7 linked regions of the Homo sapiens genome follow. The protein of the gene in region 7 purifies or fractionates together with the protein of the main gene of each other region. This does not show direct contact. Each region holds a gene or a part of one and is shown on either strand. Other genes may lie near its edges. The genes, in order: IDH2, UTRN, RBM6, EBF3, BAHCC1, SUPT5H and CPNE7.

What was found.
Region 1: the proteins of CPNE7 (region 7) and IDH2 purify together in Homo sapiens (co-immunoprecipitation; one large-scale study listed by IntAct). This does not show direct contact.
Region 2: the proteins of CPNE7 (region 7) and UTRN purify together in Homo sapiens (co-immunoprecipitation; one large-scale study listed by IntAct). This does not show direct contact.
Region 3: the proteins of CPNE7 (region 7) and RBM6 purify together in Homo sapiens (co-immunoprecipitation; one large-scale study listed by IntAct). This does not show direct contact.
Region 4: the proteins of CPNE7 (region 7) and EBF3 purify together in Homo sapiens (affinity purification with mass spectrometry; 2 studies listed by BioGRID and IntAct, with this or other methods). This does not show direct contact.
Region 5: the proteins of CPNE7 (region 7) and BAHCC1 purify together in Homo sapiens (affinity purification with mass spectrometry; 2 studies listed by BioGRID and IntAct, with this or other methods). This does not show direct contact.
Region 6: the proteins of CPNE7 (region 7) and SUPT5H purify together in Homo sapiens (affinity purification with mass spectrometry; one large-scale study listed by BioGRID and IntAct). This does not show direct contact.

Annotation. Positions count from the first base shown.
Region 1 is NC_000015.10:90,092,469-90,095,968, reverse strand, and holds part of IDH2 (isocitrate dehydrogenase [NADP], mitochondrial isoform 1 precursor), read left to right. Parts: intron 1-3,500. UniProt on the Homo sapiens protein: Plays a role in intermediary metabolism and energy production. It may tightly associate or interact with the pyruvate dehydrogenase complex.
Region 2 is NC_000006.12:144,456,335-144,459,834, reverse strand, and holds part of UTRN (utrophin), read right to left. Parts: intron 1,066-3,500; coding exon 824-1,065; intron 662-823; coding exon 481-661; intron 1-480.
Region 3 is NC_000003.12:49,946,650-49,950,149, reverse strand, and holds part of RBM6 (RNA-binding protein 6), read right to left. Parts: intron 1-3,500. UniProt on the Homo sapiens protein: Specifically binds poly(G) RNA homopolymers in vitro.
Region 4 is NC_000010.11:129,961,475-129,965,679, forward strand, and holds the start of EBF3 (transcription factor COE3), read right to left. Parts: upstream 2,801-4,205; 5' UTR 2,295-2,800; coding exon 2,161-2,294; intron 2,050-2,160; coding exon 1,893-2,049; intron 1,532-1,892; coding exon 1,468-1,531; intron 753-1,467; coding exon 697-752; intron 1-696. UniProt on the Homo sapiens protein: Transcriptional activator. Recognizes variations of the palindromic sequence 5'-ATTCCCNNGGGAATT-3'.
Region 5 is NC_000017.11:81,461,457-81,464,143, reverse strand, and holds part of BAHCC1 (BAH and coiled-coil domain-containing protein 1), read right to left. Parts: coding exon 2,098-2,687; intron 1,405-2,097; coding exon 1,168-1,404; intron 534-1,167; coding exon 327-533; 3' UTR 1-326.
Region 6 is NC_000019.10:39,459,082-39,462,581, reverse strand, and holds part of SUPT5H (transcription elongation factor SPT5), read right to left. Parts: intron 3,399-3,500; coding exon 3,333-3,398; intron 3,024-3,332; coding exon 2,993-3,023; intron 2,691-2,992; coding exon 2,622-2,690; intron 1-2,621. UniProt on the Homo sapiens protein: Component of the DRB sensitivity-inducing factor complex (DSIF complex), which regulates mRNA processing and transcription elongation by RNA polymerase II.
Region 7 is NC_000016.10:89,578,758-89,582,257, reverse strand, and holds part of CPNE7 (copine-7), read right to left. Parts: intron 3,402-3,500; coding exon of another isoform or gene 3,262-3,401; intron 1-3,261. UniProt on the Homo sapiens protein: Calcium-dependent phospholipid-binding protein that may play a role in calcium-mediated intracellular processes.

The sequences.
Region 1 (3,500 bases), on a different chromosome or scaffold from region 7:
ATTTACTGATTTTTAAAACTTGGTCACCAATTAAGATTTTTTTAAAAAACCAGTACCTGGAACAAGCAGAACAAGTCTCTGCTGGCCTTGGCTCATGTTGCTGTTCTCAGTTCCCCTGGGATGTTTGCTTCCAGGGAGGCCTGGGCACTCCTGACTTTGGTGACAGCCCTGCTTGCTCTCTCTCTGTTACCTGTAGGTTTCCCCTTCCACATTCACTGCCTCCGGGCAGGCACTGTTGTGTTTTAGGCATTTCAGTATCCCAGTGGGGTACTGGATAAGTGCTTAGTTAGCACCTGCCGGTGAGTAAATAATCAGGTCCTGTGGTCTCTGAGGGTTTGACACATCAGGTCTTTGATCTTGACCTTGAACTCTCCTAGCCATGCCTGCCTGAAGCCCAACCGTGGAGCCCAGGCTGAGGCTGAAACCTGAAGAACTGGCCCCAAGTGAGTCTCTCCTTAGGGCTCCTGATTATGATAGTTCATTTTTTTTTTTTTTTAACAAATTTGATTAGCTGTCCTCAAATTAACTCATAGGAGATGCTCCCCAGAACTAAACTAGCTCTGCAACAGCTCAACAGACTTTCCGCAGGTTCTGCAGCTCTTTCCACTCAAGCTTCAGAAAAAAGTGAAGGAATATTGTAGATTGGGTTCAAAATCCCCATCGCGTCTTGGGAAAGGCAGTAGAGCCAGCAGCCAGCCACCTTTTGTTCTCTAGGGAATGGAATAGTCCAAGGCTGTGTTTGTGTTCTGCTTCTCTACATCTGACCCACGGGTCTTCCAGAGGCTGCATTTGGGTCAGGGACCTGGGCTCTATCTTGCCTCTGATGCAGACCACACTCTCTGAGTCTCATTATTCCCCCTAAATGATCTCTAAGATTATTTTTAGATTAAAAAAAAAAAACAAACTCTTTGCATATCTTTGGAAAGTCAGTTGTTTGAGGTCTGTTAGGCTTTAATCACTTTTGTTTTAAATGTGCCGAGGTGGTTTCTAGGCCTGCTTTTCACAGGTATTCTGTCCCTTGTCAGTTCTTCCCACCCAGTTTTTTTTGTTTGTTTGTTTGTTTTTTTGAGATGGAGTCTCGTTCTGTTGCCCAGGCTGGAGTGCAGTGCCGTGATCTTGGCTTACTGCAACCTCCACCTCCCGGGTTCAAGCGATTCTCCTGCCTCAGCCTCCTCGGTAGCTGGGATTATAGGCACGTGCCACCATGCCTAATTTTTCTATTTTTAGTAGAGATGGGGTTTCACCATGTTGGCCAGGCTGGTCTTGAACTCCTTACCTTGAGTGATCCACCTGCCTCAGCCTCCCAAAGTGCTAGGATTACAGGCATGAGCCATTACACCCAGCCCCAACCCAGTGTTTTCAAATAATCATTCTCTTCCCTTCACCTGATTTGCTGTGTCTAATCTAGAGTGGAGCTGAAGACACATCACCACCTCTCTAAGGACTGTGTGTAACACAAGAGTAATTGGGCTGTAAGTGAGGCTGAGGAGTGCTGCTTTGAGGAAAGGGCACAGCTCTCAGCTGAGCTGGTGAGATTTCCCTGTGACTGAAGTTTTATTAGATCTTGTTCCCTGCTCTGCATTTGCTGCTTCTTCCCAGGCTGTGGGCAGAGGAGCAGGCTGGTGCCCCGGTGCCCCTATCTGCTGCAGGCTGAGGTTCAACAAGCCTTGTCCAAGGCAGCTGTACTGATTCATTGTTAGGTGGCCAGTTCCTGAGTTTTCTTTGAAATTCACTTCCCAGACTGTTGGGTATTCCTGCGAGTCAGACTCTCCTTCAGTAGCGTCCCCTGCCCCCTACCCTCCACTGGTCTCCCTGGACCTCTGATCAGCCCCTCATTGAGTCCTTTGATGCTTCTCTGGTAGGACTGACCCACCTGCGTCGGCTGGGATCAAGGGTTCTGAGTTCCATTCGCAGGTGCTGTAAGCCTGTCCTTCCTGTTGAATAGGGTCAGAGTCCTCGTGACTCTGCTGTTTTCAAGCTCTGTAACCTTGGGCAGTAAGCTGTTAACCTCTCTGAGCCTCAGTTTCCCACACTTAAAATGGAGATAATGGCCAGGCGTGGTGGCTCACGCCTGTAATCCCAGCACTTTGGGAGGCCAAAGTGGGTGGATCACCTGAGGCTAGGAGTTCGAGACCAGCCTGGCCAACATGGCAAAACCCCGTCTCTACTAAAAATACAAAAATTAGCCGGGCCTGGTGGCGTGTGCCTGTAATCCCAGCTACTCAGGAAGCTGAGACAGCAGAATCGCTTGAACCCGGGAGGCAGAGGTTGCAGTGAGCCGAGATCACGCCATTGCATTCCAGCCTGGGTGACAGACCAAAGACTCTGTCTCAAAAAATAAATAAATAAATAAATAAATTAATTAATTAAATAAAATGGAGGTAATGATACCTCCTTGGGGTTGTTTTTGGGATTAAATGGAATCACATTGTACAGCATTGGTACACTGTAAGGCACATAGTAGGCACTCAATACCTATCTATACTATTTCCTTTATCACCACAAGTTAGTTGAGGGCTCTTGGGTTGCACGCAACAGACAAAGTTAGTGACTGGTTAACTTGGAGAGGATTTTATTATGAGCTACACAGCGTAGCTCATAGAATTGCAGGGAAAACTATAAAGAACTAAGTCTTGGACAAAAGTAATATCTTGGCATGGGCCTGTAGCCCCAGCTACTAAGGAGGCTGAGGTGCAAGGATTGCTTGAGCCCCGGAGTCTGAGCCTGGCTTGGGCAACAGAGAGAGATAAAGAGACCCTGACTCTAAACAATAAGTAAATACATAAAAGAGGACCCAGGCCCTCCTTAGGAACTGGATGGCAGGAGCCCCTGGACAACCTCTTACTGATTTGGTGCTGGATGAGGCAGCCGCAGCTAGCCAGTGTTCTTTGTGTTGATCTCCTCTGCCTTCATATTCCAGGGGGAGAGGGTCTGACAGGCCAGACTGGCCCCCACCCTCTTGGCCACTGGTGGGCTGGGCATGTTTTTGGGTAGTTCTACCTAGCCAGATTAAAGTGGGGGTGGGGTGGGGAGTCCAGCCAGCCTGGGCAACAGGGCAAGACTCCATCTCTACAAAAAAATTTTAAAATTAGGCTGGCACGGTGGCTCACGCCTGTAATCCCAGCACTTTGCGGGGGTCAAGGCAGGTGGATCACTTGAGGTCAGGAGTTTGAGACCAGCCTGGCCAACATGGTGAAACCCTGTCTCTACTAAAAATACAAAAAATTAGCCAGGTGTTGTGGTGCACACCTGAAATCCCCGCTACTTGGGAGGCTGAGGCCCGAGAATCACTTGAACTCGGGAGGCGGAGGTTGCAGTGGGCTGAGATCATGCCACTGCACTCCCACCCTGGGGGACAATAGCGAAACTTCGTCTCAGAAAAAAAAAAAATTAAAAATAGCTGGGTGTGGTGGCATGCGCCTGTAGTCCCAGCTACTTGGGAGGCTGAGGTCAGAGGATCACTTGAAGCCAGGAAGTCAATGCTGCAGTAAGCTATGATG
Region 2 (3,500 bases), on a different chromosome or scaffold from region 7:
GAAGATCACTTGAGCCCAGGAGTTCTAGACCAGCGTGGGCAACATAGCTAGACCCTGGCTCTACTAAAAATAAAAAACCAGCCAGGCATGGTGGTGCATGCCTGTAGTCCCAGCTACTCAGTAGGCTGAGGCAGAAGGACCACTGAAACCCAGGAGGTCAAGACTGCAGCTATGATTGCACCACTGCTCTCCAGCCTGGGTGACAGAGTGAGATCCTGTAGCTACAAAAAAAAAAATTATTATTATATCCTACTGACACAATTTTAGAGAATGTGAAACTTGCTTGTATGTTTACAAAAAGGTGTGAATCTGGAAAAGAATCTGAATACAGAAGACTTTAAGACTTTGAACAATACAGGCACAAAGGAAAATGGAGAAGGTTGGTGCAAAGCAAGCAAGTGTACTCAAGTTCTAAATGTTGGGAGTCATGTTTACATTAAGGCAAACTGAGACAGGAGATTTTAAAATTGTTGGGTTTACCATTCTCTAGATGTTGTTGACGATCCTCTACAGCCTCTTGTACAGCTTGGTAGCGGCCCAGAAAGCTATCGAAGCCCCGCTGGACAAAATCTGGGGCAGAAGGCTGAGACATCAGGGCCGAGCAGCTTGCACGAGCCATTTCAATTTTGGGGTGAAGGCCAAGAAGATTTGTCAATTCCCGCTAAGGAAGAGAAAATACGGTCACACAACTCACTGAAGATGAACATCCTCACAGGAAGTTAATCAGGGCAGCATTAACTTAAAGTTCATGATACGAGAAGCCCTCCTTAACTCTGGAACTGCACATAGAATTCCTCCACTTTCCAGACCGTTGGCTCCTTACCTGACAGGAATCCTTCAAGCTTGGCAAGGACTGCCGGGAAGATTCAGAAATGGAAGTGTGTTTTACCCACTCCTCCTTTGTCTTGATGACCTTTTCAAGCTCATCAAGCTGCTTGAAATAAGCATTTATATCTTCCTGTAGCTGAATCTTTCTTTCTAGATCTTCCAAATGTTGAGATACATTCTTCCATTCTGATGAAACCTTCTCCAGAACATTTTTTATTTCTTCAGTAGGAAGGCCTTCTATGCAGACATGAAAAACAAGCAAACAGTCTATATATTACAAAATGTGTCTTGAATTTATTCTGAACATTCTAACACTCAGAATAGTGAGGCAATGTCACACATAATGATCACTTTCTTAAGTCCCTTTTAATACAACAACAAAAATTTATAATGATGCACTTAAAAATAATGATGTTTATTTCAATTCCTTGAACAAAGAAGAAAGACATTTTAAAATAACGATTCAGGCACATCAGTAGAACTTCAGCCACTGCCTTTTCTAGATAATATATGTTTCCATCCATGCCATGCTTCTACTCTGCTAGTTTATCACCTGAACCAGTGAAATAAGATCAACTACCTTGATCTGTCTAGGCCCGACTTCAGAAAGAAGACCCTTTGTCCTAAGAAAAAAAGAAAGCTGGCTAGAAAAACTAGGAGGCAGCTCAGGTCTTGGTGACCAAAGCACAGTGTCATATAAATTAAAAAATGAATGGCGAGGATGCCTTATGCTGGGAAGCAACCTGGTGAGTGCAGGAATATTAAGCCAGCAGCCAGGCTCTAGAAGCATCAGCAAGCCCACTGGAGACCTTGCACATAAATAAGCAAATACCAAAAGACTGAGGCAGCAATAAGATGATCTACTTTAGAAACACATCAGGGAAAACAATGCCACCATTTTTATTACTGAAATCTTATCATTTTATTTGTCCGATATTTTTGAAAAGTAGAGAATGTTCCTAAAAATAATAAAGTCATATATAATAATAGGTTTTATCATAGTCCTTCCCTTAATCTAAAATACCTTCAAATCCTCTAAAATGACTATGAAAAAGTATGGGAAATCTTCAAAGGAATCTTTCTATTCGGAGGAAAACATGCATACCAAAAGGATGGCTTCACATTTTTATTGAGTAGGAAAGCAATAAAACAATCCTGCTTTATAAACATATATGATCAAAATCCAGGATAATGAGAGCTTGAACTAAAAAACAAAGGCATAAAAACAAAAAGTCATGTATGATCCACAGACAATGCAACTTTGAAAATTTTTATAATACACTGTGTCTACTGAAAATCATAAATGAGGGCATATCATGCTGTCATTTGAATGTGTCACCTATGTCAATTGCAGAAGTTCACTGTTCACCACCATCTCTCAGGTAAGAGAATATGAGACATAAGCAAAGCATTCACACCACAAGCCATGCTGCATTACCCCTGTTAATGGGGAGAGTATACAAAACAAATCACCATTTTCCTAACAATATGAACAATGGAGATATGGGTCATGCCCCTGCCCCATCATTTCTATTCTAGGCAGGCAAAGGAATAGTAACACCAGCCACATCATCTTTATGTTGGACAATTCATACTAATCAAGGAAGAAAATTAAGTAGGTAAATAAAATTTCTGAGATGGAAAATTACCACTACTCATCTAGAAAACTGGAAAGAGGTGCTCACTTCAAGAACAAGGGCGGTTAAAACAACTTCAGTTATTTTTTCACTGACAATGTCTTACAAGCCATTCATTTTGCCTCTTTAAACCAATTTTAAACATCTGAATCTCCCTTTCTCTAATCCTGAGATATTGCTGGTTACAGTGATGCCCGGTAATGATTCAAACACAATTTACATCTTATAAAAGGAAAACTGCACATTGTCTTTAAAAATAGTTGTTTTACTCCCAGAGATCCAGAGTTTAAAATTTTCTATTTCTATAAAACACAGAGTTCTTAGAAGGTGACTAGTCAAAAGGCAAAATCAACAGAAGATCACTTTATTAATTGTCTAAAAGGGAGAACATAGAACACATTCCTGCCACTCAGTCTCACTTGACTTTACACTTCTCAGTCTATCACTATTGGAATCAAGGGAAACGTTTACAAAACATAGGACCTTCACCAAACTTCCTGGGCTTATATGCTTAGGCAACCACAATGGGCATTGATTCATAAAGCCACATTATCCAGATGCCCAACTACTCTACTGTATTTTACTAGATGAAGAGCTCTAGGAACAAGATAAGCTAAACGAAGAAAACCAAGTATATCAGCTATGAAAGTCAAATGAAACACACTATTTTATTTATTATTATTATTATTATTATTATTATTATTATTATTATTATTTTGAGACAGAGTCTTGCTCTGTCACCAGGCTGGAGTGTAGTGGTGCAATCTCAGCTCACTGCAACCTCCGACTCCCTGGTTCAAGCGATTCTCCTGCCTCAGCCTCCTGAGTAACTGAGATTACAGGCATGTGCCACCATGCCCAGCTAATTTTTGTATTTTTAGTAGAGACGAGGTTTCACCATGTTGCCCAGGATGGTGTTGATCTCCTGACCTCGTGACCCACCCACCTCGGCCTCCCAAAGTTCTGGGATTACAGGTGTGAGCCACTGCGCCCAGCCTCACGCTATTTTATTTTCTAAAATTGTTTCTATGCTCT
Region 3 (3,500 bases), on a different chromosome or scaffold from region 7:
CACTCCCTGGATCCAACTACAAGCTTTTAAACAGTAGCAACTTTAATATGCACTCAAGAACTGGAATTAGTGGCTGCTAGAAGCACCCTTGCCCCCCAAAATATCTCGATTTGAAAATTTTAAGTGTAGTCTGGGCCAGTGGCTCATGCCTGTAATCTCAGCACTTTAGGAGGCGGAGGCAGGCAGATCACTTGAGACCAGGAATTCAAAACCAGCCTGGCCAATATGGCGAAACCCCATTTCTACTAAAAATACATAAATTAGCTGAGCGTGGTGGTATACACCTGTAGTCCCAGTTACCCAGAAGGCTGAGAATAAAATAAATAAAATAAAAAAATAAAAAGGCTGGGCGTGGTAGCTCAGGCCTGTAATCCCAGCACTTTGGGAGGCGGGCGGATCACGAGGTCAGGAGATCAAGACCATCCTGGCAAAGACGGTGAAACCTTTTCTCCACTAAAAATACAAAAAATTGGCTGAGCACTGTGGCTCACGCCTGTATTCCCAGCACTTTGGGAGGCCAAAGTGGTCAGATCACAAAGTCATAAGATTGAAACCATCCTGGCCAACTGTTTCTACTAAAAATACAGAAATTAGCAGGGCATGGTGACAGGCGCCTGTAGTCCCAGCTACTCGGGAGGCTGAGGCAGGAGAATCGCTTGAACCCGGGAGGCAGAGGTTGCAATGAGCTGCGATCACACCACTGCACTCCAGCCTCGGGGACAGAGTGAGACTCCGTCTCAAAAAAAACAAGCAAACAAAAAAAAATGTTGTCCTGAAGGATTTTCCTCTCTGGGAGAATGTACTTCCGTTAAGTTTCAAATGAAGTGTTTTCTTTGATAAAGTAAGAGGGGGTAAGTAGGGGGAGGTAAGTAAAAAGAAGAATCAACAAGACCTATTCTTTTTATTTCATAATTTTTTATGATTCAGCAAAGCATTAACAAATGAAGAAGATTAAAGAATTTAAAAAGAAAAAAATAAAAATAATAAATTCTTGTATAATTATGGTAAAATATTTGGGTATGACCAGGCGTGGTGGCTCACACCTGTAGTCCCAGCACTTTGGGAGGCTGAGGCCAGCGGATCACAAGGTCAGAAATTTGAGACCAGCCTGGCCAATATAGTGAAACTCCATCTCTACTAAAAATACAAGAAATTAGCCAGGCGTGGTGGCAGGTACCTGTAACCCAGCTACTTGAGAGCCTGAGGCAGGAGAATTGCTTGAACCCAGGAGGCAGAGGTTGCAGTGAGCCAAGATCACGCCACAGCACTCCAGCCTGGGCGACAGTGCAAGACACCATCCCAAAAAAAAAAAAAAAAAAAAATTGGGTATGTAAATAGTCTCACTCTGTTGCCCAGGCTGGAGTGCAGGGTGCAATCTCAGCTCACTGCAACCTCTACCTCCTGGGTTCAAGCAATTCTTTTTTTTTTTTTTCTTTTTTGAGACAGAGTCTCACTCTGCTGCCAATCTAGAGTGCAGTGGCGCAATCTTGGCTCACTGCAACCTCCACCTCCTGGGTTCAAGTGATCCTCCTGCCTCAGCCTCCCAAGTAGCTGGGACTAGGTGCGCGCCACCACACCCAGCTAATTTTTTGTATTTTTAGTAGAGACTAGGTTTCATGACATTGGCCAGGATGGTCTCGATCTCTTGACCTGCCTCGGCCTCCCAAAGTGCTGGGATTACAGGCGTGAGCCACAGCACCAGGCCTCAAGCAATTCTTGTGCCTTAGCCTCCTGAGTAGCTGGAATTACAGGCACACACCACACCCAGCTAATTTTTGTATTTTAGTAAAATCGGGGTTTCACTATGTTGCCTAGGCTGGTCTCGAACCCCTGAGCACAGGCAATCTGCCCACCTCAGCCTCCTAAAGTGCTAAGATTATAGGCGTGAGCCACCGTGCCTGGCCTATTTTAACCATTTTTAAGTGTACCATTTAGCTACAGCCATCACAACAGTGCAGTAAGGACATAAAGATAGACATAAAGACCAATCAACTGAATGGAGAGACCAGAAATAAATCCTCACATATATGGTCAATTTTCTTTTTTTTTTAAGACAGATTCTCATGTCTCGCTCTGTCGCCCAGGCTGGAGGGCAGTGGCGCAATCTCAGCTCACTGCAGCCTCCACCTCCCAGTTCAAGCGATTCTCCTGCCTCAGCCTCCCGAGTAGCTGGGATTACAGCCAGGCACCACCATGCCCAGCTAATTGTGGTATTTTTAGTACAGACGGGATATTGCCATGTTGGCAAGGCTAGTCTTGAACTTTAGTCAACTGATTTTCAACAAAGGTGTCAAGACCATCCAATGGGGAAAGTACAATCTTTTTCCCAAATGGAAAATGGTACTCCGAAAACTGAATATCCACATGCATAACAATAAAGTGGGACTCTTACACAACAAAAATATATAAAAAATTAACTCAAATTGGATCAAAGACCCAAACGTAAGCGCTAAAACTATAAAATCTTAGGGGAAAAATTTCATGACTTTCGATTGGTAATATTTGCAGATGAGGCACAGATTTTAAAAAAAGAAGATAAATTGGACTTCATCAAAATGAAAACCTCTGTGCATCAAAAGACACTATCAACAGAGTATAAAGACAACCACAGAGAGAAAATATTTGTAAGTCAAATATCTGACAAGGAATTAATATCTAGAGTGTATAAAGGACTCCTAAAACTCAACAACACAGACAAAAACCTAATTTTATTTTATTTTTAGAGACTGGGCCACTCTGTCACCCAGGGTAGAGTCCAGTGGTGCAATCACAGCTCACTGCACCCTCAAACACCTGGGCTCAAGAGATCCACCTACCTCAGCCTCCTGAGCAGCTGGGAATACAGGTGTGCACCTGCACACCCAGCTCAAAACCCCCCCCCCCCCCCTTTTTTTTTTTGAGACGGAGTCTCGCTCTGTCGCCCAGGCTGGAGTGCAGTGGCTCAATCTCTGCTCACTGCGAGCTCTGCCTCCCAGGTTCACACCATCCTTCTGCCTCAGCCTCCCGAGTAGCTGGGACTACAGGCGCCTGCCACTGCGCCCGGCTAATTTTTTTTTTTTTTTTTTTTTGTATTTTTAGTAGAGACAGGGTTTCACCGTGTTAGCCAGGATGAAAAACCCCATTTTAAAATGGTCAACAAAAGACATGAATAGATACTTCTCCAAAAGAGAATATGCAAATAGCCAATAAGAACATGAACAGACGCTCAACATCACTTATCATCAGGGAAATGCAAATCAGAAACCACAATAAGATACCACTTCACATCCACTAGGATAGCTACTAATGAAAAAAAAAAAAACGAAACAGAAAATAGGCCGGGTGAGATGGCTCACACCTGTAATCCCAGCACCTTGGGAGGCCAAGGTGGACAGATCACTTGAGGTCAGGAGTTCAAGACCAGCCTGGCTAATATGGTGAAACCCTGTCTCTACTAAAATACAAAAATTAGCCAGGCGTGGTGGCACACGCCTGTAATCCCAGCTACCCGGGAGGCTGAG
Region 4 (4,205 bases), on a different chromosome or scaffold from region 7:
AGTTATCATCGGAAAAGTTGACCAAGACAGGTTAAATAATTTAATAAGGAACTGCTTGTAATTATGTTATTTACAAGGTATGACAGAGGGTGGGAGAGGGGGCAGAGCAGTGGACGGGTTGGAGTGACCCCTGGAGCTTGGAGTTTGAATTATGGAGCTGGGGGGCTGCGAGGTGAAGATGGACTAGAGGAGAACAAGGTGACTTTTCACCCCAACACATTTAACTTTTAAATCCAAATAAACGTCTCGTGTTACTAGACCATCACACTGGAAAGGAGAAAAAAAATGAACTAATCAAGTCCAACTCGATGGGCTTAGGAGTTAGCTGCCTTTGTTATAGGAAAAAAAATCCAAATGAACTGATTCCTAGCAGAGAGAGAAGCATTTAAAAATAAACAAGAGGGGGGACATCTTGAAATTTTTGTCAAATATTAATTACCATAATTAATTAAGACAGAATATGATTCCAATCACAAGACATTTAATAAAGCATATATGTCCTGTTCTAATGACAACATAAACTATTTTACCAATCGCTTCATTCATTCCAATAAATATGGAATTCTCATTAGCATGTCAAGGAAACTCAATGGAAAACAAATACACGAGATCCATTTGTCAGTGCCCTTGCCTCTGAAGCCCAGGACAACCCAGGCCCAGCAGTGAAAACTCGTGCAGAGGCATAAACTTTCTCACCTGTTTGGTCATTGAATCTATGAGGCGAACATACAGATCTTGCTCTGTTCTGACTCCTGCAAAAAAACAGAGACAAATTCTCATCAGGATTTGAGTGCTGCACCTCGGGGAGGGCACACGGAGCACAGGAAGTCTGTAACTCAGGACTGCTGCCACGGTGATGCAGCAGAACTTAGGCAATCCCTTTGAAAGGGAGAAAGAGAACCCCACCACTTCTCGCTTAATTTTTTTTTTCTTTTCTTAACTAAGAACCTTAAGGCTCTTAGGGCTTGCATTTCAAGGTGCAAGGAACTTGCCTGGTGGAGAGCAGGCCTGGTAGCTGTGTGCGGTGGGCCCATGTGGTCGTTTATTTTTAGAAAAGAAAAAGCACCAAATGGAAACTGAGTGAGAGGCTGAACTCTTTCTAATGTCTCTCGAGGATTTAAAAAAAAAAAACTCGTTCACAGGAAGTAAGTTATGCTCCGTTTATGGAGTTACCCCCATCCTAATAATTAACATTAATTTGCAAAATTGAAAAAAGTCACTTAAAAGTGATGTTCTGCTGGAGCCCGTATCGATCTTTTTCTTACTTTCTACTTCAAGCCCCACCGGTTAATCATGTGAAGTGCCATCGACTTATTGATCGTTTATGTTTTGTTTTCCTTCTATGCCATGAGAAGATTTCGTGTTTACATCCATGTCATTTTAATCTCAAATCTTTATGTCCTTTCACCAGCGCAGAAAAGGAGAGCCAGCCGCTGCAGGGGCGGCGAGCACGCAGCAGGCACTTACCGTTGCTGTACAATAACTGGAGTTTATAGTGGATGCCGTTGTTGGTTTTCTCGTTGTTTGGCTCCTGAAAGTAACGATAAATAATTGCATTTAGTGCGATCGGTGTCAGGCGCGGCCACCACGCTCGGTCCCCCTCCGCGACCGAGGCTCTCGGCCTCACACATGGCAGGATTCCTAGCTCGAAGCAGCGCGGTGATGTCACTTTCCTGCTGGAAGCCCAGCGTTCTCCTCGCCCCGAGTAAGTCCGAGGGCGCAGAGAAGTTGCCCAGCCCTCGGCGGTCCCGGGCGGCCGCACGTGGCGGCGGCGGGGTGGCCTGGCGGAGCCGAGCCCGCCGCCTAGGGGGGCACTCGAACCCCCGCGCACCGGCACCGCCTGCCTCCCGCTTCTAGAAAGAGAGAGGGTGTGATCGTGTGTTTGCACTTACTTTCTCTTTCTCCACAAAGTCCACAAAAGCGGTCCTTTCAATCTCCACCGGCTGCCCCTGCCTATCGTAGAGCGCCAGCACGAAGTGGAAGAAATTGGATTTCCGGAGGTTGGAAGGCGGCTGCTTCTCGAAGTGCGCCCGCGCCAGCCCCACGCCGCTGCGGGAGGAAAGAGACAGCGGCCCGGTGAGGAGCGCGGCGCCGGCCGGCGGAGGGGGCCGGGCCGGGCCGGGGCCGGGGCCAGGGCGCGCGGGGGCGGCCGGTACGTACCTCTGGGCGGCCGTGTTGGCGTCCACCACGCCCGCCGTGTGCATCCACGAGCGCACCGGGTTCATGCCGCTGCCCAGCGGCTCCTCCTTCATGGTCGTCCCCCCGCGCGGAATATTCTCCTGAATCCCAAACATGAAAACTGCTGGCGGCGGCCGCAGCTCCCGGCCGAAAGCGTTTCCTCGAGCAGCGGCGCTCGGGGCTTGGCGGCAGGCGGCTGCCCTGGCCGCCCTCGCCCTGCTCGGCGCCTGCGGTCCGGCCCCGCCGCCGGCTTCAGCCCGTCCCGGGCAGGCGCGACATACACCAGCGGCCGGGCGCTCCGGACGGCCAGGGGCGCGGAGGCGGCTCCACCGGCGGCGGCGGCGCTTCGAAGGAGCAGGACGCGGTGGCCGCGGCGGCGCTTGTTGTTGTTGTTGTTTGCAGGCGCGCTCAACGTGGTGTCATCCTAGCCAGGCGGCGTCCGCGGCTGCAGGACACTGCGGGATCGCCCGCTTCTGGCGCGGCCCGCCTGCTCCAAAGACAAATAAACGGGGCAGTGAGTGCTGCGGCGCAGTCCCGGGCGCAGGCGGGGCGCGGCGGGGCCTGGAGCGGCGCGCGCAGCGGACGGAGGCGCACAAAACTCAGCCCTCTCTCCCCGAGGAATGGACCCTTTCCCGGGAGCCAAAACTCGAAGCCCCCGGGAGCGGCGCTGTCAGAGGGTGACGTCGGGGGGCGGTGCCTGCGCCATATATGGGAGCGGCCGCCCCTCGCCGCGCCCCTCGCCGCCGCCGCCGCCGCGCTCGCCGACTGACTGCCTGACGGCGCCGCGAGCCGGCCCGAGCCCCGCGAGCCCCGCGAGCCCCGCCGCCGCCGAGCGCCACCGAGCGCCGCCGCCGCCCCCCGCCACGCACCGCGGCTCCTCGCGTCCAGCCGCGGCCAAGGAAGTTACTACTCGCCCAAATAAATCTTGAAAAGAAACAAACGCAGCCACTGCACAATTGCAGTTTGGCCCCTTAATACCTCCCTGCAAAACCTGCCACACAGTCGAACACGATGGGCGGGGCGGGGGGCTGTAAAATGCTGAGGCGCCCCAAGTTGCCCAGATGCATGCAATAAATGCAAGGGGCTGCAGCTTGTCCTGGGGCCGCCCGAAGGAGAAGTGGGAAGAGGCAGGTCGACCGCAGGGAGGGCGCCGGAGGGAGGAGCGGGCAACGGACTGGGAGGAGGGGTGCCCAGGGCTCCCCGGCCAAGGCTGGACGCGCAGCTCAGCCTGATTTCTAAGCAGACCTAAGGCTGCTGCAGGGCCGGCCGGTCCCGGTCTGAGCCCCGCCAGGTACCCCAAGCTTCCTACCCCGGCGGAGGCCGCCGAGTGCCGGGCAGGGAATCACGTCGGAGGCAGGGTCTGCCAGATGCTCCCTCTCCCCCGGTGGCCGCGGCAGACCCCGGCCCCTGGCCTGTTCTTACGCACAGCGAGTGACAAAGAAGGCTCCGGTCTCTCCGGGCCGACGGGAAGCGCGCCCGGCCTCTCCGGCGACCCGGAGCCGGGTGTCTGGCTGCGCGACCTGCGCGGTGGCCAGACCGCCCTGGAGCCAACTGCTCCAAAAACCAAGCGGACGCCGCGGGCGCTGTGGCCCGGCCCTCGGAGCCGCCGGACCCGGGTGAGCGCGCGGCGCGCGGCTTCCCGACCTGGTTTCTAGGAATCGGGAGGGCAGCCGGGCGCGGGCAGACTGTGGGCCCCGCGGCCCAGCTCCTGTAGCCGGGACTCCGCGCCCAGGAGCGCGGCCCGCCCAAAGGACGTCTGCGCGACACGGAGCAGAGACCCAGGGGACGACCAGGAACTGTCCTAGGCACTTCCCTGCCAAGAGAAATCAGGCCCTTTTGATTAAAAGAAAAAAAAAAAAAAGATTGCAGGGCGCAAGTGTGTTGCAGGGCAGCCTCCTCCCGCCGGGTCTGGGGCAGCACTCCCTTTTCCCGTGAATTGGCAGCGTGTGTACGTTAATATTTTAATTAATCGGGAAAGTCGAAGTCCGATTCACGTTGTCTGGGGACCCCCACGCCTCTTGGAAGGA
Region 5 (2,687 bases), on a different chromosome or scaffold from region 7:
TACTAGGGAATATGGCTTGGATTCAAATCTCCCGTGAACTGCCGGTGCGGGAAACGGAGGGCGCTGTGGGTGGGGCGGGCCGGGGACCCATGAGGGCCACAGCCCGACCCTCCGCAGAGGATGGGACGGGACTGGATTCCGACACCTGGAGCGCTCTTTCCAGGGAAAACCGTAAGAAAGCCTGGGTCTTGCCCTGTGGGCTTTTGCATATTTGCTCAGATGCGCCCTTGGGAGGCCGGGGCTGCCTCCTGCCCGGTGGCTTGGCCGACGCCAGGCTCCGCACACAGGGTCCCTGGCGCACGTGGGAGGCATCTGCGGTGGGCGGCTCAGCATAGGATGGGCACGCCATCAGCCGTCACCAGGCGCCCGGTGGTGGGGTCGTAGGTGCCCGCCAGGTAGTAGAGGTCCTGCCGGTCCTGGCACTTGCGGCTCCGGGCCATCTGCTCATACTGCTCGCGCGCCACGACCTGGCACTTGTGGGAGATGGTCTGCACGTCGTTCTCATCCTCGTGGCAGGACTGGTACAGCGCATTCTGGGGGCAAGGCGCGCGGGGCATCAGTGGCCGGCCTTGGCCAGTGCGCCCCTGCCCAGCCAGGAAAGACCACCCGCCCACCCATGCTCTGTAAGGGTCACCGGATGGACTTCTGTGTGGCCGGAAGACGGGGCCGAGGAACCTGCCAGGGACCAGGTCCAGGCAGCCCTGTCTGTCCAGAGGCCGAGGAACCTGCCGGGGACCCTCTGGGGGCTGTCGGAGTCAGAGAAATACTAATTTCCCTGAAAGATGGACGTGTCATATGGTCTGGAAAATGGCTTCTTCTCAGAGAGGAGCAGAGGGTGTGCTGAGTGCAATTTCTGTCTCAGGCTGGCACTGGAGGCAGGGAGGGCCCACGGGGTGGGGGCCGCCACACATCCCAGGAGTGAACTAGACCTGCCGGATGCTGAGCACTGCTGTGGGCCACAGCCCCCCACTGTGGGGAGGGACCTGGGAGCCCTGCTCTAGGGCATGCCCATGGGCTGTGCGGCTCCCTGCAGGGCCGTGGTACCTGCTGAGCGGGGGCTGTGTGGTGGGGCCAGGTGCTCCGTGTTGGGGCACAGTGCTGGCTGCTGTCGTGTCCCCTCCCTGGGGCCCCGAGGGGGGCTGGGCCCCACACCTGTCCGGGCCTCACCTTGCCGTCGCACTGCCTCTTGCCCAGCTTGGTCTCCTCAGGGTGGTAGAACCACTTGACCTTGACCACCATGTTGCTGCCCCACGACTCCCACATGCTCTCGATGCGGCCGATGTAGGGGAGGTTGGGCCGCCCAGCTGACAGGAAGACGGCACAGTCCCCGACACGCAGGGTCTCCTCGCCCCGCACGATGGCCTTGTAGAACAGCTTCCGGGCCTTCCCCTTCATGCCACGCCGCTGTGGGGGACATGGGCAGGGTGGCTCTGAGAGGCCGGGGGGCTGTGGGGACAGGTGGCGGCCAGGAGGCATGGAGGGTGTGGTGTGGGTGTGAGTGTGAGTCTGAGTGTGAGTGTGCAGGGCGCCCACAAGGGCAGGAAGCCGCAGCACCGCGGCTTAAGGCCATGGCAGCCATGGATCTGGAGCAGGGGCCACGCCTCCACGGAGCCCGCACATGGAATCATGACGTCTGGACACTGGATCTGGGACAGGGACATGTGGACAAGACGTTCACCACAGTGTTATTTACGAAGGCAAAAGACCCACGAGTGGCCCCACATGCGCCCCCGAGCAGTGCCCTGGTGAGGACAGACGCAGGCATCTGAGTGCGGGGATACACAGCTCTCCAGCTGGCCACGCCACTTATCAACGTGGAAAAGTGAGGCCACACCATGCGGAGTGCAGCTCAGGCCCGGCCCGACATGAAGCCATTTCTACTGTCACGCAGGCCACGGGCTCCAGCGAGGGGCCAGCGGAAGCGGCTGCCTCACTGGGTCATGGATGGGTCTTTGTTCTTCCCTTGAGTTTTCCACATTTTTTAACTTGAAATCAAGTAGGAAGATGAAAAAGGAGAGGGAAGGGCAGCAGGGGCGCATGAGCCCGCCCCGGTTTCCTTGGGAACCAGGAGCTCCTCCCGCCTCCCGCTGGACCTACCTGTGTGGGATTCCCCGACCACTTCCAGAGCTGCCGGGCGGGCAGGAAGGCTGAGATCTTTGGCCGGTTTTCCACGGAGGGCGGCCGCTGCCTCCGGGAGAGCTCTTTGGCTTTGGAGAAGCTCAGGGCCTCTTTGCGCTTGAGCTTGGATTTGCTGCTGCTGCTGGGGCCTGAGCCCGCACCGGTGCCAGCCACCGTGGCCCTGGACAGGAAGCAGCGCTGGGCATGCGCGTGAGGGCCGCTGCCCTTGGAGCGCAGGGCCTCGGGCTGGGCCAGGAGGGTGGGCACGGGGTGGGTGAGGCAGGTCTGCAGCAGCAGAGCCGGGTCCTCGTCGTCTGAGCTGTAGGACGAGTCCTCGTTGTCGGAGGAGCAGAGGCTGGAGGTGGACACGGAGCCTGAGGAGGAGGAGGTGGACGAGCCAGAGGAGGAAGAGGACACGGACAGGCGGGCGAGGAAGCGGGAGGGCACGCCGGCCGCCAGCCCCGGCCCGTCCTCGTCCTCGTCCGAGAAGGAGCTGTGGCAGTCGCTGTCGTAGGGCAGCGGGAACTCTGCCTGGCCCGCGTACTTGCGCAGCGCCAGCCCCATGGGCA
Region 6 (3,500 bases), on a different chromosome or scaffold from region 7:
TCTAGCCTGGGCAAGAAGAGTAAAACTCCATCTCAAAAAAACAAACAAAAAAATGAAGTCTTGATATATGCTACAATATGGATGAGTCTTGAAAACATTAAGTGAAGCAAGTCAGTCACGAAAGGCGACATATTGTATGATTCCCTTTGTATGAACCATTCAGAGTTCCAATAGTCAAATCCACAGAGAAAGAAGGTAGATTCATAGTTACCAGGAGCTGTGAGGAGGGAGGAATGGGGAGTGATGACTAATGGGTATCGGTTTATTTTTGGGATAATGAAAATGTCCTGGAATTAGATGGTGATGATGGTTATGAATACACTACAATATATAAAATCCACCACAGTTTACACTTTAAAAAAATTAAATTTTAGGCTGGGCACAGTGGCTCAGAACTGCCATCCCAGCACTTTGGGAGGCCAAGGCGGGTGGATCACTTGAGCCAGGAGTTCAAGACCAGGCTGGCCAACATGGTGAAACCCCGTCTCTATTAAAAATACAAAAAAATCAGCCGGGCATGGTGGCGGATGCCTATAATCCCAGCTACTCGGGAGGCTGAGGCAGAGGTTGCAGTGAGCCGAGACCACACCATTGCACTCCAGCCTGGGCAACAAGAGTGAAACTCCGTCTCAAAAAAAAATAATAATCAGAGACATAACTCAAATGAAGTAACTAGAATTTTACCCCAGGGTACCATGTAGGAGGATTTGAGCACACTTCTTTTAATTATTATTATTATTATTTTTTTTTTTTTTTTTTTGAGACAGTCTCGCTCTGTTGCCCAGGCTGGAGTGCAGTGGCACGAGCTTGGCTCACTACAACCTCCAACTCCTGGGTTCAAGCAATTCTCCTGTCTCAGCCTCCCAAGTAGCTGGGATTATAGACATGCACCACCACCCCTGGCTAATCTTTTGTATTTTTGGTAGAGACGGAGTTTCACCATGCTGGTGAAGCTGGTCTCGAACTCTTAACCTCAGGTGATCCACACGCCTCAGTCTCCCAAAGTGCTGGGATTACAGGCGTGAGCCACCGCGCCCGGCCTATTATTATTTTCTTTGTAGAAATCAGTTGTCACTATGTCACTATGATGTCCAGGCTGGCCTCGAACTCCTTTTGCCTCAGCCTCCCAAAATACTGGTATTACAGACATTAGCCACCACACCTAGCCAAAAGGTACCTTTTCAACCTCCCTGTTGGGGAATCATACCCCACAAATCCCAATCTCACCCATGACAGGCAGGGACACTTATTACTATAATAATGAGGAAGACATTCCACCCCCTACCCACCCCGAGACGGAGTCTCACTCTGTCGCCCAGGCTGGAGTGCAATAGCGCAGTCTTGGCTCACTGTAACCTCTGCCTCCTAGATTCAAGTGATTCTCCTGCCTCAGCCTCCCAAGTAGCTGGGATTACAGTCAAGCACCACCATGCCCAGCTGATTTTTGTATTTTTGGTAGGGACAAGGTTTCACCATGTTGGCCAGGCTGGTCTCAAACTGGCTGGTTTCGAACTCCTAACCTCGTGATCCACCCACCTCAGCCTCCCTAAGTGCTGGAGATTCAGGCATGAGCCACCATGGCCGGCCTTTGAGGAGGACATTTGAGCACATTTAAAAGCATAGTTTGCAAACCCTACAACTGTCTACTTGGTCCCACTGGGTCACACCCAGTGGCTGGACAGGTGAAAGCATGATCCCTAGCAGGGATCATGTTAACTGAGAAAGTTACCAGCCAGCACCCTTCATAGCGTTTGCCCTGGTTCCCAAACTGCCAATGAAGCCTTTGACAACAGCTCTGCTAAGTAAATGCAAGCTGCAGAACAAGTCCTAGCTGAGAGCTGGACATAAAGCCACCTAATCCTTTTTTTTGTCACACTGGAGTGCAGTGATGCGATCTCGGCTCACCGCAACTTCTGCCTCCTGGGTTCAAGTGATTCTGCCTCAGCTTCCCAAGTAGCTGGGACTACAGGTGTGCACCACCACGCCCAGCTGAGTTTTGTATTTTTAGTAGAGACGGGGTTTCACCACGTTGGCCAGGCTGGTCTCAAACTCCTGACCTCAAGTGATCTGCCTGCCTCAGCCTTCCAGAGTGCTGGTATTACAGGTGAATGCCACTGCACCCAGCCAAAAGCCACTTAATCCTAATGATGCTGAGAGGCAACCAAGGGGCCCAGAGAGGGGAAGTAGGTGCATCAGAGTCACACAGCTAAGAAGTGGCAAGGGCAGGACTCAAACTCTGTCAGTCTAAAGAAAGACCTGGGCCTTGGATGCAGCATTTGCTGCCTGGCATGTGGTGAAGTGGGTGACCCCAGCCCAACAGGGCTGGTGAACAGGCAAACCCACTCTCATGAAGAAAAGGTGCAGGAAGCTAGCTGGCTGACTTCCAAAGGGCTACAAGGGTGGGAAGACCCTGCCATAAATGCAGAGAACAAAGACAACATATCCATCTAGGCCGAGAAGAGCCCTTCCATCTAGGCAGTGGTCTTATTCCAGCTCAAGCAGCTCACTCAGCAGGCAGCTCTGCTCACAACAGAGGCACCTGGTACCCCTGAAGTTGACAATGTTCTTCCCTCTGGGTGTTGCCATGTCTCCCCACCAAGCCGCCTGTCTACCCGACTTACCGTGTCTGTGAACTGGTAGGCAATGAACTTGCGCATCAAGGAAATGGCCGTGGCCCGTTCCTCCCCAATCTGGAAGATGAGAGGCAGATTTGAGAGAGATGACAGGATGGAGGAAAGGACACAGGAAAGGGGGAAGGAGACAGCAGCAAGAAAAATAAAGTAGGACCAAGAGAGGAGAGAGAAAGAAGGATGGACAGCCAGGAAGATGGAGGTGGGAGATAGCCAGTCAGTAACGTGGAGTGAGGGATGGAGACAGAAGGACCAAGTGACTGGCAGGCCACGGAGACCCGGGACAGACAGACACTTCTCCCCCACAAAGCAGCCTCCCTCATTCTCCCACCTCCTCCAAGCCCCGAGATCAGAGCACATACCTTACATTTGACAGTCCACAGATTGGGATCCCTAAGCAGCAGAGGAAAAGGAAGGCCTTCAGTGAAGCTGGATCTTCAGTAACAAACAGACGAACCCCCAGGGCCACCCCCTTCCTCTGGTTTCACATCCAGGTTCCCTCACACTCACTGACTTCCCCACGCTTCTACCCAGGAGCAAGAGGAAAGAGAAAGTGCCACCTTGCCCTCCCTACCCCTGCCATCCACCACACTGCCTGTGTGACTCTGCCCTGACTTATTTCAGGGAGCCACCTGTCTAGGCACCATCACCCCATACAAGATTCGCACCCCAGCACGGCCCCCACCATCCCAACCCCCTTACTTGACTCCTGGGAGCAGCTGCTGCTGGGTGATGTCGTCTGAGAGCTCATCAGATCCTCCATACACCCTGAAGGGAGGAGGGCAGTCAGGAAGGGGTGAAGCTCTGTCAGATCCCCGCCCCTTCCCGCTTAGGGACCACCTGCTCCCTGCCCCCACCTGCCCCCACCAT
Region 7 (3,500 bases):
TTGAGGCAGAAGTCAGGGGTCAGAGGTCAGGTCAGGCTCAAAGCCACAGCACAGGGACTGGATGCCAGTAGCTTCTCCCTTGACCGTGGTGCCCTGCAGGTCAGCTGGGTGGCCACAGAGCAGGAACCCACGAGGGGCCTCCTCATTGCTGGAAGTTTGCACATATCCACAGCACACGTGCTCACACACACATTCATATCTGCACGCAGGTGTCCACACGGACCCTGTGTGTGTGCTTATGTGAACAGGCATAGGATGTCCTGCACGGATTATGACATACATGTGCACCTGTGTGTACATAGAAAGGTGTCCAGGCCAGACACAGTGGCTCATGCCTATAATCCCAACATTTTGGGAGCCCAGGGTGGGTGGATCGGTGAGCCCGGGAGTTCAAGACCAGTTGGGGCAACATGGTGAGACCCCTGTCTCTTCAAAAAATGCAAAACGTAGCCAGGTCTGGTGGCGTACACCTGTAGTCCCAGCTACTCAGGAGGCTGAGGTGAGAGGATTGCTTGAGCACAGGCCGTTGAGGCTGCAGTGAGCTGTGACTGTCCCACTGCACTCCAGCCTGGGCGGCAGAGTGAGAACCCAACTCAAAAAAACAAAAAAAGCATGTCCATATTTCTGTGTCCGTGCCATCCTCTTCCATCTGTGCCCTCCCTAACTCTCAGTTTCCTTATCTAAAAAATGGGGAGGACAACAGGATCGATGGCACGCCAGCTCCGACCGAGGCTGCAGGGGGATGAGTCACGCAGACATTATGTTGGGTAAAAGAATTCCACAGCAGGGAGAACACGCGCTGTGATTCATGGACGTGGAATTCCAGAAGAGACGAACCAGGCGGGGAGCTGGCCACAAAGGGGCAGGGGCAGCTGCGGGTGACGGGATGTTCCGTGTGATGGGTGACGGGATGTTCCGTGTGACGGGTGATGGGATGTTCCGTGTGATGGGTGACGGGATGTTCTGTGTGACTGGTGACAGGATGTTCCGTGTGACGGGTGATCGGATGTTCCGTGTGAGTGGGTGATGGGATGTTCCATGTGATGGGTGATCAGATATTCCGTGTCAGCGGGAGACGGAATGTTCCGTGTGACGGGTGACGGGATGTTCCATGTGATGGGTGAGATGTTCTGTGTGATTGGTGAGATGTTCCATGTGACGGGTGATGGGATGTTCCGTGTGACAGGTGACGGGATGTTCCATGTGATGGGTTACGGGATGTTCCGTGTGACGGGTGACGGGATGTTCCGTGTGACAGGTGATGGGATGTTCCGTGTGATGGGTGAGATGTTCCATGTCAGCGGGTGACGGGATGTTCCGTGTGATGGGTGAGATGTTCCATGTGACGGGTGATGGGATGTTCCGTGTGACGGGTGATGGCATGTTCCGTGTGACGGGTGATGGGATGTTCCGTGTGATGGGTGACGGGATGTTCCGTGTTACAGGTGACGGGATGTTCCGTGTGACGGGTGAGATGTTCTGTGTCAGCGGGTGATGGGATGTTCCGTGTGATGGGTGAGATGTTCTGTGTCAGCGGGTGACGGGATGTTCCGTGTGACAGGTGAGATGTTCCGTGTGATGGGTGATGGGATGTTCCATGTGACGGGTGATGGGATGTTCCGTGTGACAGGTGAGATGTTCCGTGTCAGCGGGTGACGGGATGTTCCGTGTGATGGGTGAGATGTTCCGTGTGATGGGTGATGGGATGTTCCATGTGACGGGTGATGGGATGTTCCGTGTGACGGGTGAGATGTTCTGTGTCAGCGGGTGACGGGATGTTCCGTGTGATGGGTGAGATGTTCCGTGTGATGGGTGAGATGTTCTGTGTGATGGGTGATGGGATGTTCCGTGTGACGGGTGATGGGATGTTCCATGTGACGGGTGATGGGATGTTCCGTGTGACGGGTGATGGGATGTTCCGTGTGACGGGTGAGATGTTCTGTGTCAGCGGGTGACGGGATGTTCCGTGTGATGGGTGAGATGTTCTGTGTCTGCAGGTGATGGGATGTTCCGTGTGATGGGGGAGATGTTCCGTGTCAGCGGGTGACGGGATGTTCCGTGTGACGGGTGAGATGTTCTGTGTCAGCGGGTGACGGGATGTTCCGTGTGACGGGTGAGATGTTCTGTGTCAGCGGGTGACGGGATGTTCTGTGTGATGGGTGAGATGTTCCGTGTCTGCAGGTGATGGGATGTTCCGTGTGACGGGTGAGATGTTCCGTGTCAGCGGGTGACAGGATGTTCCGTGTGATGGGTGAGATGTTCCGTGTGATGGGATGTTCCGTGTGACGGGTGACGGGATGTTCCATGTGACGGGTGAGATGTTCTGTGTCAGCGGGTGACGGGATGTTCCGTGTGATGGGTGAGATGTTCCGTGTCAGCAGGTGACGGGATGTTCCGTGTGATGGGTGAGATGTTCCGTGTGATGGGTGTGGGATGTTCCGTGTGACGGGTGAGATGTTCCGTGTCAGCGGGTGACGGGATGTTCCGTGTGATGGGTGAGATGTTCTGTGTGATGGGTGATGGGATGTTCCGTGTGATGGGTGATGGGATGTTCCATGTGAGCAGATGACGGGATGTTCCATGTGATGGGTGAAGGGATGTTCCATGTGACGGGTGAGATGTGATGGGTGATGGGATGTTCCGTGTGATGGGTGAAGGGATGTTCTGTGTGACGGGTGAGATGTGATGGCTGACGGGATGTTCCGTGTCATGGGTGAGATGTGACAAGTGATGGGATGTTCTGTGTGATGGGATGTTCCGTGTGACGGGTGATCGGATGTTCCGTGTCAGCAGGTGACAGGATGTTCCGTGTGAGGGGTGAAGGGATGTTCTGTGTGACAGGTGAGATGTTCCGTGTGACGGGATGTTCTGTGTGACGGGTGATGGTCAGCTGTGTACAGTCACCTAAACTTGTCATTCTCAACCCTTAAGATTGATGCATTTTATCGTAAAATTTTTTTTTTTTTTTGAGACAAAGACTCACTGTCACCTGGGCTGGTGTGCAGTGGCGCGATCTCGGCTCGCTGAAACCTCTGCCTCCCAGGTTCAAGTGATTCTCCTGCCTCAGCCTCCCCAGTAGCTGGGACTACAGGCACGCACCACCACGCCTGGCTAATTTCTTTTCTATTTTTAGTAGAGATGGGGTTTCATCATGTTGGCCAGGCTGGTCTCGAACTCCTGACCTCGTGATCCCCCCACCTCGGACTTCCAAAGTGCTGCGATTACAGGCGTGAGCCACCGTGCCCGGCCTGTAAATTTTACCTCAATAAAAAAGAAGGACCCGTCCTGGCAAGGTGTGAGGATTCCGTGCAGCACAGGAAGTGCTTAGCGCAGTGTCCAGCAGGGCCCAGCACATCAACAGACACTCTCATCACGACTTGCAGAAGCCACTTTTGGGCTGGCTGTGGAGGCCGTAACCCAGAGAGCATCACCAAGGAAGCAGTGGCCACCGTAGGACCTGCTGCTCACAAGGAGGCTTCTTTTTTTTTTTTTTTTTTTGA